Linked DNA regions of Homo sapiens. The protein of the gene in region 1 purifies or fractionates together with the protein of each later gene. This does not show direct contact. Each region holds a gene or a part of one and is shown on either strand. Other genes may lie near its edges.

Region 1 (8,105 bases):
AGCCCTGGGAAGAATCCAGGAGTCTAGCTGTATTTTCCAGCTTCTGTCATTCCAGGATTCTGTGCTCAGTCCCCTGGGTCACCAGGCTAGGGAGGGGACTCTGGCCTTCCTTGCCCAGACCTCACCTGCCTCCTTTTTAGTTTCTAAATAATTCAAGCTATACCAGATCTACTGAGGGTGGGGAGGTTTAAGGAAGTAAGAGAGCCCCTCTAGGATCCCACCAGGCCTCCCCTGCTTCTGGAAGGTGAAGAGAAGGGATGGAAAAGTCCAAGCTTCTCCTCTTCCCCTCCCTGTACCCTGGCCAGGGATCAGGGGTGGGCCAGACCAGTGTGACTGGGGTCACTGACCTTGTGGAAGACATGTGAGTGGGGGTGATGGCTGTCTAGGAATAGCCAGAAAAAACAGGTCTTGGGAACTCTTAGATGGGTGTGGGTGGGTGAAGGCCTCCATGGAGGAAGCGTTGGACTGGCAGCACCTTCTGCGTCTTTGGCTTTAGAAAAGTGGTTGCTGGCCCCGGCAACCCCACACCAGTTTCCTCATCTCTGCCTGGGAGAAGAATGTCAGTTTCCACCAGGGCCATAGAAGAGAGTCCAGCAAGACCACTCCAGAATCAGACATTCTCAGTGTCTCCTCCAGCTTGTCCCTCCCACCCTGGGACAGGGTCCTTACCTCCCTGGGCCTCAGTTTCTCTGTAGGCTACGTGGGCCTCAACCACCTCCCCTGCCGACTTAGAGATTCTTGAAGTGGGTCCGTGGGAAGAACATAGGTGGGGGACCTTCCTTTAAGGGGGTCCCTCCTGGCCTGCAGGCACCAAAGTGCTTAGTACTTTGACCATTGTTTTAAGTAAATCAGCTCCATTTACTGGGATGTGCATCCCAGCTGGCAGCCAGCAATCCATTGCTGCGGAGGGAGAGGGGTCCAAGCTGAAGCTGAACAACTCAGTGCCTAAGAAGCTGCACAGCCAAGTCCTTTCCACCCCAAACAGCTCTCTCATTCCTGTTGAGGGCTCTCTGGTGGAGCCTCTGTCTCACAGGTCACCTGCAGGCCAACACTCCCAGAAGCAGCTAGCACCATGGTTGACCTCGTCCAGGTCCAGGGAAGGCCTCCCTCTCCAGGACTCCTTTAGATTTCCCCAGCATCCAGACCTCACCTGCCTAAGTGCTGTTGCCCTGGAAGCCACAGTGAGCACGAGCTCCATCTTGCACCTTTACCAGCCAATGGGGGTAAAGACATTAGCTGGTAAGTCATTTAAAACTTATTGAAAGTAACACAGTTGTGTGATGGAGCATGATACAGTTACTCGTATAACTGTTAAAAGATAGGAGACTTCAAGGAAACTGTCTGTGGTTCCTCTTTGGGGTCATGTGCTTTCTCTCCTTCCCATAAGGGTTACTCAGGCTGAAATGCTCAAGACACTCTGTCTCAAGGGATTTGTGGCTGTTTCATCCTCAAGTATAGGGGGAATAGTGGCCAGGAAGATCTCAGAGGTGGCTTCTGGAAGAGGAATCTGGGTACTGGCTACCCTGCCTTGTGTCCCATCATTGGTCTGTCTTGCCTGTCTTGGAGCACATTTCTCACCAAGGTACCATCCCAACCCCATCTCCCACCAGCAACAGGGTTCTTTCTGCTTTCTGGCCCCTTCCCAGCGTCTCCTGATTCTCCTGTCCATTCTTATCTCTCATAACACTGTAACGTCAAAACAGGATGGATGGTAGCAGATATCTCTTGTTTCTGCCTTCCACCATCCTTTACTCTCTTCTGGTGCCATGTCCTCATCTGTGTCTGGGAAACAACCTCCTTCCCTACCTCTAGTTCATGGAGTTCTGATGAACCCTCTTCCAGGGGATTGACATGTGACCAAGGCTTAAGTCCATCAGAGCATTCCTGGCCACAGTGCCTGACACATGGCCTGAGTCAGGCTACTCAGAGCCAGGAGGCTCACTCCTGGGACTTTGGATTAAGTGATTAAGAAAGTGAATTTGGTTTTTCCCCACTGGACTGGAAACCTTAAAGGAAGCAAGGGCTCAAGCTTCTGCTGTCTTCTTGTTGACAAGTGGAACACACGGATAAAAACTATACAGCTGAAGGCAGAATAGAGAGATGGAGAAAAATCAGGTTCTCTTAATATTGTCTGGGTCTGTGAATGCAGCCATGCCTGAAACCAGCTCTACTGCTAGCAACATGAGCTGATGCCTTTCCTTTATGGCTTGGATCAGTTGAGTTTTCTGTTGGTCGCTGTAAACAAAAGTGTCCAGCCTTGCCCTCTGAGGACAAGATAATGGACGCCCTCACTTTCTGGGCCTTCTTAAGCCAGGACTGTGGCCATATAGTTTGCCAAGAAATATTTGTTTCCCAATCACCATGGGCGCCTAGGATTTCTGGCAGCTTCTGCTTGCGACTCTCTGAGGGTAGAAGAGTGTTGGGTCAACTTCTCCAGCCAACTCTGCCCCCTCAGCAGCACAGACACACAGCCCTTCCTTAGAGGCAGTTTGGAGAGAAAGGAGGGGTGGGTACCGAAGCCTGTGGTGTTTATGAAACAGTGGGTGTGGTCTGGAAGATGAGCTCTCTCTTTGTCACAATTTAGTTTAGTGTTGAGCCCTATCTGGGGAGGGGTAGAGGAAATGGAGACCCAAAGAGGGACCTGAGGTCACCCAGCAAATGCGCATTCCCAGATGGGACCTAAGTCTCTGACCGCTGGTCTGGACTGCATCAATCCTTCAACACAGCCTCGCCTTGGACCCTCTGGTCAACCATTGCCCTTTGAGGGACCGGGCCAGGGCAGCTCCCTCTAGTCCTTATCACTAAGGAATTCAGGCAGACTTTGGACTTCCTCTCCCACTTATTTATTTCCCTATTCTAAACATCCTCATTATCCCTCTGGACTTCAGGAACACAGAGAGAGTTGAAAAATTCCCTGGCTGAATATAGCCAAGTCTACTGATGTCAGGGAAGTGTTCCAGGGTGGGATATAGCTGGAGTCTGGGCTTCCTACAGAATGGGTATGCTGTACTCATTCTGTAGAGGTAGGTCATGGAGGATGTGCAAGTTAGACAATTAGAAGTGGAGTAAGAGCACCCCAGAAAGTAGAGCAGCGTGTGCACAGGCATGGAGGCATGAAAATGCCTAATACATGCAAGGCTGTGAGAAGCCTGGTGTAGCTGCAGCAAGGAGTTCTGGGGGCATCAGGAGACAAGTTGAGAGATGTAGACTGGGGTAGGATTGGGAAGGGCCTGGAATGCCAGTTTTCAAGTGTGAGCTTTCACTCCTAGGCCATGGGGGCCAACAGAGACTTGAAGCAGGAGACTGAGGATGGGGGATACACATTTTACAAAGATCCCTCAGGTTGCAGGTGGTGGGGCTGAAAGCTACTGCACCAGTCCAGGCAGGAACTGATGAAGCCTGGGCAGGACAGTGGGTATAAAGAGAGGGCACAGAGAGGAGGGGGCAGGTGGAATGAACAAGACTTGGTTAGTCCCTGTCTCCAACTAGACTCAGGATTCTCCTGCCAACTCCCTGTCATTCACCTCCCACATCCCGCTAGCCCCATGGCAGAGGACAGAAGAAGACCAGGATGGAGAAGATGCTGTGGACTTCTTCAGTCTTCTTCAGCCTGGGTCCCTTCTGGGCTTAGGAACTCCTGCCCCAAAGAAGGTGCTGAGAGCCCAGCCTGGACCAAAACTCTCTAGCCTCAGCTCAACGGCAGGGTCAGGCTGCCTTTAAGCTTACTTTTTGGAGCTCAGTCAAGCATAGGAATTGGTGAGGGGCTAGAGAGAAAGCCCTGCTTTTTCCTGTCCATGTGGGGTTCTCTGAGATCTGGAGCAAAGGCTAGGTGTGGTGATGGGGGTATGGGTGAAGATGCTGGGAGTTGTAGCTGTTAGATGCAAGGGGCTCTGAAAGACAGGGTGGGCCATGCTCAGGTTCGTAGGCCATGTTCAATCCCCTCAAGGGAAGCCTGAGACCACAGCTACTGCCTCGAATCAGAAGCCCCAGCCTCATCATCTGGGGCCAGAGAACTAGGGCAGGAGGAGCCAAGTAGCACAGCAGGAAGCATGAGTCCCTCCGAGGAGAAGCTGGTCTCTGAGAGGAGCACAGAATGCAGCAGGCTGGATAAGGTGAGGCAGGAGAAAGAACTGTCTGCAAATTGCCAAGCATGCAGAGCCTCCATGGATGATTTGTGCTTCTGAGGTTTGTCAAGAGGGCTATTTTATTTTTTTCCAGCCTGCAACTGTTAATGGAGGCAGGGGAATGGGGAGTAGAGGACAGGGGGCTCAGGAGTGGTTTCATTTACCCTCTCCCACATGACCCTAGCCCTTTACAGAAACCATCTCATATCTCACGACTTATTTACTCTACTCTGCCAGCCCCCTGCTGAAATCATGGGGTAAAAAAGAGACACAGGGGGAATGGAGGAGCCAGAGAGAAAGCAGTGTGATCACAGGCACACAGGACAGCAGCTCACCTTCCCATCCTTGCTGGCTTTTGCACGTGAGTGGGCGAGAACGTGCAGCCCTTGTAGTTGGGAGGCAAGAGGGGAGAGAGGAGAGAAAAGGTGGGAGGAGGAAGGGCAGAAAAGGAGTGGGTAAAGGACATAAGTTGGATCATGGGATCCAGGAGTCACAAAAGAAAGGAGAAACATGCTCCCAGCTTTGCAGAGAGCACTAAAGGAAATCAAAATAAGACTTCCCCTCATTGCAGGGCAGCCTGCTAGGGTGATGGGAATGTATAATAGTTTGACCTGGGCAGTGGTGACACAGGTGTACACATATGTGACAATTCACTGAGCTGTCAATTCAGATTTCTATATTTTACTAATTTTAAAAATATCTAAAGTCCCAGCGCAGCATGTGACACGCCGTCGCCCACCCTGGAAGTAGTAGCCCCTCTTCACGAGGTGGCAGAGCCTAGTTCAGACCACAGGTTCCAGAATGAGACTGTCTGCTGCTTCCTGGCTGGATGACTTGGGCAATTTACTCAACTTCATCTATAAAATGGGGACAATAACAATACCACCTACTTCTAGAATTGGGGTTGAGGGTCACATGTAAAAGACACCAGCCAGGCACCAGGGGGGTTAGCAGCGACTGCCAAAGCTCTAGTCCAGTCCTCATGCCAGGCTGCCCCTGCTGTCCACATCCAAGCCTAGCCACAGCCGTAGTGCCTTGCATAACCCCAGGTAGGCTGAAGGTCCTACCCACTGACAAGTGCCAGCCGTACCCACCAGAGGTCTCAAGTCTGCCAGTTACCTTCGCCCCGTACTGATTTCTCTTCCTTGTATTTTTACATCCCTTAGCCAACAGCCCAAAGCCTCCCCGCTGCAAATTCTTTTTTTTTTTTTTTTTTGCCAGCCTCACTTCCTCTTGGGGAAGGCTGAGCTCTGGTAGAAGAAGAGAATGAGAACTGCTGTGTGAGTGTTGATGGGGATGGGGAGGAAGAGGGGGAGACATAAGGATACAGGATTGTGCTTTGGGTAAGAAGAACTTTCCACATCTCAGAGTGATATCAGGACAAGGGCTCTCATAATTAGCAGAACCCAAGCACAGACACTTAGCTTGTTCCCATCTAAGGGTTCTTCTTGGAAGGTTTCTTTTGGGGGCATGAAGCCTTTATTTGCAGAGGAACACAGGCTAAGCATTTAGTTTAAATCCTCTGCTGCTTGTTCACGATCCTGGCCACACCTAGGGAACTGGAGTTTGCAGGACTCAGCTTATAAACACAGTGCCTGTGGGTGACGTTGGTGTTGGAGCCACCTGCAGAGGGCTGGACTCCAGCACAGGCAGCCACAAGGCTATGAGTCCTTAGTACATGGAGATTGGTTGGTGGCCTCTTCCCCCTCCTCTGGTGACCTGCTGTGCAGGAAGAACTTGTTTTGAAGTTAGGTAGTAGGAGGCACTTCCTGAGAGATAATGGGCCGCATGAGAGGGGCTGCACGAAAAGACTGGGTCCTCCCAGTGGAGGCTAGCCTGAGGCTCACTGCCAAGGCACCCTGCTTTCTCCCTGCCAGCTCGCTGGACAGTCCCGTCAGACACAGACATGAAACTCCTGCGAGAAGACCAAGCCCTGGATAATATCACCACTCATCCTGTGGCACTTCATTACATTCCGGCTGGGGATATTTGAATATTAGATATTAAGCAATTCCTGTCAATTTTGTTAGGTGTGTAATGACAGTATCATAGTTATATAGAAGAGTGTCCTTTGGTTTTAGAGATGCATTCTGAAATGATTTGGGGTAAAAGGTCAGGAGGTTTATAATTTACTTTAAAATACTTCAGCCCAAAAGCAAATGAAGCATATATTAATTGTTAGATGTTAACAATTGTCAAACCTCGGAATTGGGTATTTGCACGTTCATTATAATGTTGTCTCTGCTTGTTTAAAAATTTTCACAAAAAAAGTAAAAATTTAAAACACTATACACGTGGTGGAGAGATTAAACTGTTTTTTTCTTCTTCAGAAATACTTCTAAGGGGCCAGGCGTGGTGACTCATGCTTGTAATTCCAAGCACTTTGGGAGGCTGAGGCAGGTGGATCACCTGAAGCCAGGAGTTCAAGAGCAGCCTGGCCAACATGGCGAAACCCTGTCTCTACTAAAAATACAAAATTTAGCCAGGCATGGTGGCGGGAGCCTGTAATCTCAGCTCCTAGGGAGGCTGAGCCAGAAGAATCGCTTAAACCTGGAAGCTGGAGGTTGCAGTGAGCCAAGATCACACCACCACACTCCAGCCTGGGTGACAGAGCAAGACTCCATCTCAAAAAGAAAAAAAAGAAAAAAAGGAAATACTTCTAAGTTATGTGAGAGAGTACATACTGACATTTTCAATGGGTACAATAAAAATCATTTTGTGTTAAGAAGTCAGAGAGGGGAAGGCAGAATCTGGGGGTTGAACAGAAGGATTTAAGAAAGGGACTAGGCTTTACATAGTCCCCAGGCCCCATTCCCTGCTCCATGGCCAAAGGAGCCACAGTGAAGGGCCCAGCAATGGCAGAGTTGTGGCACGTGGCAGGTTAGAGCCCCTACCCTGGTCTCATGGCCCATGTTGGATTTCCACTGAGGCTGCCCACGTTGTGAAGGCCCATCTGCTCTGAGAGGCCCCATTGCCTACCTAGGCCTGGAGCCTTACCCCCAAAATGTTTTGGCCACCTAATGAGGAAACGTCCCCCATTCCCCAGGACTCCTGCTGCCCTGGGAACCTGTGGGAAGATGGGGGCCAGAAATAGCTGTATAAGTTTGCACAGGGCTCCCAAGCTGGGGACGTAGGAGAAGGGATGACAGTCACACAGTTCACATAGCCACCTTCACAACCTTTACCTCCTTCAAAGCTCACAGAAGTCCTGCTTGAAAGACAAACCCCCTTTCACAGAGACCCTGGTGCTCCAGGGGTAGATTATGTCCCACTCAGGAGGCAGAGTTGGCTCCAGCCTAACCCTCTCCTCCCACTTCTCCTGCACACTGGGCGGAGGCCTCTCACCTTCCCTTTTGTGGTGAGGAACCCGAGGCCCTTCCACAAAAGTTAAAGATGTTCCCAAGGTCAAGCCATTGCCATGGAGTGGAGTGAGGACCAGCTCTCCTGTTTCCAGCCTGGGCTCCCCAAGGATGTCCCACAAACCTCAGAGAAGGCATAGTCTTAGTGCACCAGGACAGGAGGGTAGAAACTTCCAAAAGGGCTCGCTTTTCCAGCATGGTACCCTGGGAGCCCTGGCCAGGCCTAACTGAGGTGGTAACCTCACTTGAGGAGGAGGCCTGACCCAGATGCAGCCATGTTTCCCAAAGCTCACAGGGTGGCCTGCTGGGGGCCAAGAGGGCCTGGGCAGCTGTGGTCCGCCTCTGGAGAGGCTAGAGGCAGGTGGCAGGGGCAGCAGGATGCCGGTGGCAAGGCAAGGCCTTCAGGAGCTTGTGGCCACTGATCAACCTCAGAGTTGGGGAGAAGTCGAGCCTCTCCCAGTCCCTGGGACTCCTCCTTCTGGGGGCAGGCCCATTGGTCCTGTCAACAGAGGCTGTTTTATGGTTTAGGGTGAAAGATTGGCCCATCTGGTCAAACTCTTTAGGGCACAGTCCTGCTTCTTCCAGGAGCCTCCCCTGACTGTTCCTCTCAGCAACCCCTGCC
Region 2 (8,105 bases), on another chromosome or scaffold:
CGTAGTTATGTTGTAAGCTGATCTCTCAAAAGTGACATAACTCTCACTTTTGTTGTATTCTGTGAGGGGAGGGGATTACACAAGGGCATGAATAGCAGGAAGCAGGCATGATTGGGGTCATTTTAGAGGATGCCTACTATATTTCTCAGACATATCTCTGTGGATTTTTCTTTGGCACGTGCGCATGCACGCGTGTGTGTCTGTGTGTCTGTGTGAATGGACATAGGTTCTCTAAAACTGACTATGCTGGTTAGTATTCCCATCAGCAGAGCATGAGGGTTTTTATATCACCACATGCCTGGCAACACATTACATTCTCTAGGGCATAGGGGCATATCACCTTGTTTCAGATTGCCTGTTTATATCTTTTGATTTTTTTTTTCTAGCAGAGTTCCTGCCTTTTTATTGGTTGTTGGCAGGAGTTATTTGTAATAGCCTTGATATTAGTTTCGTGTTCTTCTTTCAGTCTATTATCTGCCTGTTAACTTTGTCCAGGGATTCATTTGCTGAGCAGTAATCTTTAATTCTGATGTAATTTAATGTGTAATTTTTGCCTTTGTGGTTTGTGTTCTTAGGCTTTTATTTAATAAGTCCTTTCTTGTGCTTATGTTACAAACTTATTGTACTCTTCCTTCTATCAACTTTAGTTTTATTCACATCTAAGTCATTAAGTCTTCTGTAGTAGGTCTTGAGTATGTTGTAAGGTGTAGGGATCTGTCATTATGAAATAAAAGAGGTGTTTCCCATTACCATCTTCTGTACAATGTGTTTTTCTTCATTGATTTGTGGAGTAATCGTAATCTTTATTGTATATTATTTCCATATATACACAGGTCTGTCTTTGAATTATCAATTGGGGTCCTTTGGTTTGTTTACTTTTTATACAAATACCATGCTGTTTTTCTTACTACAGCTGTATAGAGTGGCTTGATATCCAGTAGGGAAAGTGCCCCTCTTCATTCTTTATTGTCAAGGTTGACTTGGCTATTTGTTTATTATTTCATAAAAGTGAGTCAATTTATGCAGTTCCTCAAAAAAGTCGAGTGAGAATTTTGGTTGTGATTCGTTGACTTTCTGTATTAATCTGGGTAGAATTATTATCTTCATAGTATTGTCATTCTGTTCAGATCATCCACTGTGTCCTTTTTAAATGTTTTTCTTCATAGATGTCCTATGAAGGACCAAAACATTTTATTCCAAACATTTTAGTTATTCTGGCAGTCTTGCAAAATGCTGTTTTGTTTTTGATAACCTACTATTGTTGGTTAGTGCTGCTAAGGAGAAATGCTATTTATCTTTCAAAGTTGATCTTGTATCTGGCCTAGTTGGATTTTTAAATTTATTTGAATAGTTTCTTGATTTTTTAATAACTGTTTTAATCTAACTTCTCCAATATATACATACTTTTTCCATTTTATTAATTTCTCAACTCCCAGTTCGAGTCCCTTTGCTCCCACCCCTTTCCCCCACCTTCTTTTAATCTGTTTGATCGATATTGAATTTCTTATTTTCCTTCAAAACTACCAGACCTTTTTGTGGCTGCCTTTGTATGGTTTCTTCACTTTAATGCCCTTCCCCTTCTTCTTGTTCTTCGTCTGCTCAAATATCATCATCTTTGTGAAGAATTTCCCTTCTGACCCAGGCAGAATTGGTTGCTGTTATCTCTGTGTTCCTAATACAGATAGTTCATATTCTTTCATGGGATTTGCCGGATTTCATAGTAATTTCTTTTTCTATGTTTGATTATTCCGCTGACTCTTCACTAGGACTCCTCTCTTTCTTCTCTCCTTTTTGCTCCTTCCCCCTCAATCTCTTGTCACTGCTGTGATGTTCTCAATCTCTTGTCACTGCTGTGATTGGCTATGTTCTCAGGCAGGATCCATCGACAGAGAAAACCAGTAGCAGCTCTATCCATACATAGTTCTTAGCACTCACAATCTCAGAAGGAGAGAGTGCCTCTTTTCTGATAGTTCCAGAAGTGCTGGGAAGGATTTTGACAAAGACCATTTTTATTGGCCAAACGTGGATCACCAGAAGGCAGAGTCGTGCCCCATCCAATCCACATGTATGGAGGGGAGGGAGGTTCTCAGGAGGACAAAAGGGCTGCTTTTGCCAGAAGAACAGGAGGTGGATGTTGGTCAGGCAAAATCAACAGAGGACAGCTGTAAGCCAGTCAACAACATTCTGGATCCTTCTTTCATGAAATTCCCTTTACATTTTTGTTGCAATGAGTATTCCATTTGTGCTTATGAATACATATTACCTGACCTCAGCATTCTTCTTCCTCTTTGCTATCCTAAGTTATATATGCCTTGTACGCTTTGCTGATGGATCTATTAAGGAAGGTATTCAATAAGTTTCCAGTCAAAATGAAAACAGTAAAGATCCCTCCATCTTTCCATTTATTTATCCATTGAGTACCTATTATATACTAGAGTTGAGAATATAAACAACAGCAAAAATGAAAGGTTCTCTAGCTAGAGTCTCATATATTATAGTAAGAAAGATTTGTAAGTAATTGCCACTCATACTCCAGGTTTTAAATGCCACTTTTTAAGAGACGCTTTCTTTTGATCCCATAGTTACTATCAGAGTGTCCTGTAATCCTCTCCTGTTATTACTTGTTTTTTTCCTTTATAGTCCTTTTTGGAGTGATTATTATTTGATTTTTCTTTTTTCCACTAAATTGTAAGCTTCATAAAGGCAGGAGCCTTGTCTATTTGTTGATGGATATGTCCCCAATATGTAGCATAATGCCTGTCTAGAGATAGTAAGAATAAATTTTTAATCAATATTTGTTGAACATCATATGAGCAAAAATACTGTGTGATAAGCAATTTGATATAATTTGTTTCTCTGGGCCTACGGAAGACACACATGGTTCTGTTTAGGAATTTGGGGAAATGGGTTTTTAGCTTGCAGTGACTCTTATTGTCATGTTGTATTGCTTCAGTATTCTTATGTGCTGGAAGCTTTCCTTACCTCCCAGCATCAAACCCTCTACTCTTCATTCTTCTACATTTATAGGATTCCACGGTAAGAGAGGATGATCCAAGGTTAACACTTTTTTTGTTCTCTCACTTCTGATTGTGTTTGGCCCAATTAATTTTGAAGGAGAAGAACACTTTTTTCTAAATACGTATTCTTTCCCTAAGGTTATTAGACCTAGTAATTATTAATAGTCATAGATTTTGGTTTAAGCAAAACTAAAACAATTTAGTAAAACAATTTGTTTCTAGATCTGAGGCATACAGTAAGATGTTAAATTGTAAACCACCACAGCTGATTCTTTATTATTGATGCAATGACAAAATACATTTGCAGTCTGGCACGATGGCTCATGCCTGTAATCCCAGCAGTTTGGGAGCCCCAGGCAGGCAGATCACTTGAGCACAGGAGTTCCAGATCAGCCTGGGCAACATGGTAAAACCCCCTCTTTGTAAAAAAGACAAAAATTAGCTGGGCATGATGGCGTCTGCCTGTAGTCCCAGCTACTTGAGAGGCTAAGGCAGGAGGATCACTTGAGCCTGGGAGGTGGAGGTTGCAGTGAGCCAAGATCGCGCCACTAGGTGTCAGCCTAGGTGACAGACACAGACCCTGTCTCCAAAAAGAAAAAAAAAAAAGACAGAAAACGTTTGCAAATGTATTGGACATAGTCATCCATCTGCCTATCTAAATAGGCTCTAACTCACAGCCAAGTATTTGTTATGTCAGGATTTGGCTTTAAACTCTGACCCAGGTGAAAAGCCTAGCCAGGAGACTATTGTGTATGGATTCCAGACAGGCGTGGGCTATGTTTTGAATGAATGATTATTGTGATACAAAATTTTTGGGGGTTCTGAGCACCCAAATCAAATCATCATTAGTAAATCATAACATGACATGAAACATCAAGTTTGTCTTTCATTCAATTCATGAAAGAAGAACAAATACAAGAATTGCTTTATTTTATTTTTTAAATTTTTTATTTTTATTTTTTGAGACAAGAGTCTCACTCTGTTGCCCAGGCTGGAGTGCAGTGGTGTAATCTCAGCTCACTGCAACCTCCACCTTCTGGGTTCTAGTGCCTCAGCCTCCTGAGTAGCTGGGATTACAGGCATGTGCCACTATGCCCAAGAATTGCTTTTTACAGGTTAATTTTTACAACAGTGATTATGGAAATTTCAGGAAAGAGATTGTTCTACAATACTTTAAAAGTCAGATTTCTGAGTAGAGCTGAGCTTTATTCAACCACGTAATAAGGCTAATTGCGTGGGTCTCTTGTGTTTTTCTTTTTTTATATGTCATTTTTAAATATATTTCTTTTTCTTTCTTTATTTTTTGTTTTTGAGATGGAGTTTCGCTCTTATCGCCAAGGCTGGAGTGCAATGGCACGATCTTGGCTCACTGCAACTTCCGCCTCCCAGGTTCAAGCCATTCTCCTGCCTCAGCCTCCCTAGTAGCTGGCATTACAGGTGCCCGCCACCATGCCCAGCTAATTTTTTGTATTTTTAGCAGAGATGGGGTTTTACCATGTTGGCCAGGCTGGTCTCAAACTCCTGACCTCAGGTGATCCACCCGCTTTGGCCTCCCAAAGTGCTGGGATTACAGGCGTGAGCCACTGAGCCTGGCCTTTTAAACATATTTCTATCAGTAATAACTCCTTAAGATATCTGGTAGAATTTAAATTTTTCTAGTTCTAGAATCAAGTCATCATTAATTTGTTTAATGAGCTTTCATTTAAGTAGGTGTTAAGTATTTTTCTTTGTTTTTCATAATTATTTCATTTTTATAAAAATATTTTAGTATTCTTTTGGTGCTATTGCTCTTTTTACTGCGTTGTTGAGGTTTCTACTTCCTTGGTCTTAACATGTTCCCCATTATAATCCTGTTTAAACTTTTGCAGTAACTGGAAATTTCTGGATGCCTTTATTCCTCTGTGTGCTTTCTGTTCAGCTGAATCTTTTTCTTTTTATTTGATCTAAGACTTGTTTCCCAAAGGGGTTTATGATCTTGAGAGGACAGAGTAACCCTTCATAATCAAAATATGCTTAATAAAACAGGAATAACTTGTTTACTGTTAATATTTTGCTGAACATGCAAAGTTGACCTTGAGAAAGGTAGGCACTAGAGACACAAGATCTAGGGTGTATTATTGTTCTGATTGTAAAGTGATCATCAACATGAAAAGGCATTGTTTTCTTCCCTACACTGTACCTTCTCTTCAGCTTTACAATCTGAGTATTTGTCTCTGTATTATCACTAAACAGAAATGAACATAGATGTCTAGAGTGAATCTTCAAAACAGAACACTGCTAGTAACTATTTCCATTATACATAAATAGACTTGTCATTTAATAGGAGATGGAAACTGGAAAATAGGGAAATAAAGGGATAACTAACCCAAATACACCAGCTAATGACAGGGAAGGAGTTTAATATTTTTGCTTGACTTAATTTTTGTATTAAACGTATTAACATTTTTCAGTAACCTGAAAATACTGAATATTTAGATTTGAGTTTTTAAATGTATAGTTCATTTAGAAAAGAATAGTGTCTTAATCTTCCAAAGTGACTGTTACTCTGTTTTTCTTCCATTTTAGAGATATTACATATGAAATATCAGTAGAAGCTATATCAACAATGGTTGTTTTCCTTTCCTGCCAACTCTTCCACAAAGAAGTTTTGCGACAGAGCATCAGCCACAAGTATTTGATGCGAGGTCCATGGTATGTTTCTACTTTAAGTATGTCTAGTTTTTTCATTGTATAAATCTATATTTCTAGTCTTGTCCTTTTACCTGAGTATCGTCCCATATCTCCAACCAGGTATTTCCTCTAGTTGTTCTATTGTCTCTTTAAACCCAGTGCATAGGGAACCGCATTCTACTTTCCTGTGCCATCTACCCATCCTCCCTGTTCTTCCTGTCCCGTAGCTTCATTACCTTCTCCAGTGGTTGCTTCGTAGAATTGAAACTTTGAAATCATCTTTTTCTTCCATCTCCTTCATTCTGTCTATGTTTAAGCAGTCAAGTCATATTTGTTATTCAGATTATTTTTGTATCTTCCTCTTCTCAGCAGTCCCTTTGAAACACCTGTGATCTATGCCCCCTTACTCTCTTTGGACTTCTCCAGCAGCCTCTTCGCTGACTATTCCTACTTCTTTGAGCCTGCAAATATTTGCTGTGTGCTATCCATGTGCCAGGCATGTTAGACTGTGGGGCTATGCTCTTGAGCAGAAGCTTACGATCTCCTAGAGGGTGTGGATGCAAATGACCAACACATATGCACATACCTGACCTTTTATTAACATAATCTTCACAAAACTTTAAAAATGTAAAACAAATCCAAATAAAGTACCTTTGAGGAAAGTTCTCAGATAGTGGGGAGCTTTGTCTTCTTCATATTCTTTTTGCTACCCTGATTATTCCTGTGGCATGTATGTTCTTTGAACATATTTGAAAATCACTGAGGGAAAGGATCTGGGCTTTGGAGTCAGAGGTTTGCATTGGAACCCTCTCTGACAGAGACACTCAGAATGACACTCAGAATGACCGTGGTTTGAAGTAGTGCTGGCATCGTGGGACTGTGTGCATCTTTGCTGAAACAAGATTGTGAACTTCATCCCTTATAGTGCCAGAGTATTCAAGTTGCTTTTTAAAAATAGACATAGAGGGTGTTAGTGTTCTTATTTTCTAAGTAAGGTTTTTATAGTATCATTATGGTGCCACATATTTAAACCGTAATATGTTCTTTACTTATTTTTGGGGTTCATCTTGGAAACCATATTTAAAAAGCTCAATAGTACATTAAAGAATCTGTTAAAAAGTTTACTCTATATTGCAGGAATTAGTTTAATACCAATTGAATAATTGAATAATTTCATACTTAAAAAGTGTAGTCCTATTGTTATTTTTAAATTCTTGCTTTTTTCTACTGATTCTTTATTACTACTTCCCTTCAATTGCCAGATAATGTGTTATGCACTAAATTTATAATAGCTCACAGTGTTATACCGAATGTAGATAAAGTAACTGGAGTTCAAGAGTTCAAGTGGGCTGGGCACGGTGGCTCACGCCTGTAATCTCAGCACTTTGGGAGGCTGAAGCGGGAGGATCGCTTGAGTTTAGGAGTTTGAGACCAGCCTGGGCAACATAGTGAGACCTTGTCTCTACCAGACCTTGTTTCTCCCCACTGCAGAAAAAAAGTATTTAAGTAATTTGATCAATATCTTATGATGTGATAAGAGGAAAAGCAAGGATTAAGCCTCAAAATTGCTCTCAAAGCCCATGGTCTTCACTGTTGTGTGCAGTGCTCAATTTCTGTGAGTTGTGCCAATAGCCCTTTTGTATTAACAGATAGTGTTAATGGCAGAATTATTTCTGTATTGTTATTCAGAATTAGATGACTCCCATAAATATGAGTTTGATTTTTTTTTCCTTTTTGTATAGTCTTCCATACACCAGCAAACTTGTGAAGACCTTATTATATAACTTTATCAGACAAGAAAAGCCACCTCCTCCAGGGGCCCATGTTTTCCCTCAGCAGTCGGATGGGGGAGGACTGCTTTATGGACTTGCATCAGGAGTAGCAAGTAAGTTTTATCAGATTTTTTCAATTCTTTGGTGCACATAAATTTTATCTATTTAGGCATAAGAAATTCTGTTTGCTTGGCTGCCACCATTAATAGTTACATTGAATTTGTGCAGCTGGTTCAATGTGAAAACAAAGTAATTAAAATATTAATCTTTCTGTTTTGTGCGGTGATTTATGTAAAATGTATGCAAATAATGAATGGATTACCTACAAAACATCGTTTTTCAGGAAGAATGTTTACACATAAATATGCGTATTGCATGAATTGTAGCTGTATAGTAAAAATAAAATTAAGCATTTGAAAACTTATAACACTACTTGTATTATAAGAGGAAATCTATTTTAGGTTATTTTAGGGTATATTTTGGTTAGGATTTCATGTGACTAATTAGGTGCAGTTTTCCTATTACACTAAGTGCTTTCTTCAGTGACAACTGAATATTTTGCAGAATTTTGTAATAAGCTGTGAAATGGCACAAACTTGAGTTTTGTTTGATTGGGTGCAGATTTCTTAAGTGAAGAAAGCTCTTC

What was found. The genes of interacting proteins can lie anywhere in the genome.
Region 2: the proteins of VIPR1 (region 1) and DYM purify together in Homo sapiens (co-immunoprecipitation; 3 studies listed by BioGRID and IntAct, with this or other methods). This does not show direct contact.

Annotation. Positions count from the first base shown.
Region 1 is NC_000003.12:42,505,192-42,513,296, reverse strand, and holds part of VIPR1 (vasoactive intestinal polypeptide receptor 1 isoform 1 precursor), read right to left. Parts: intron 547-8,105; exon of another isoform or gene 348-546; intron 1-347. UniProt on the Homo sapiens protein: G protein-coupled receptor activated by the neuropeptides vasoactive intestinal peptide (VIP) and pituitary adenylate cyclase-activating polypeptide (ADCYAP1/PACAP).
Region 2 is NC_000018.10:49,331,331-49,339,435, reverse strand, and holds part of DYM (dymeclin), read left to right. Parts: intron 1-5,582; coding exon 5,583-5,708; intron 5,709-7,429; coding exon 7,430-7,572; intron 7,573-8,105. UniProt on the Homo sapiens protein: Necessary for correct organization of Golgi apparatus. Involved in bone development.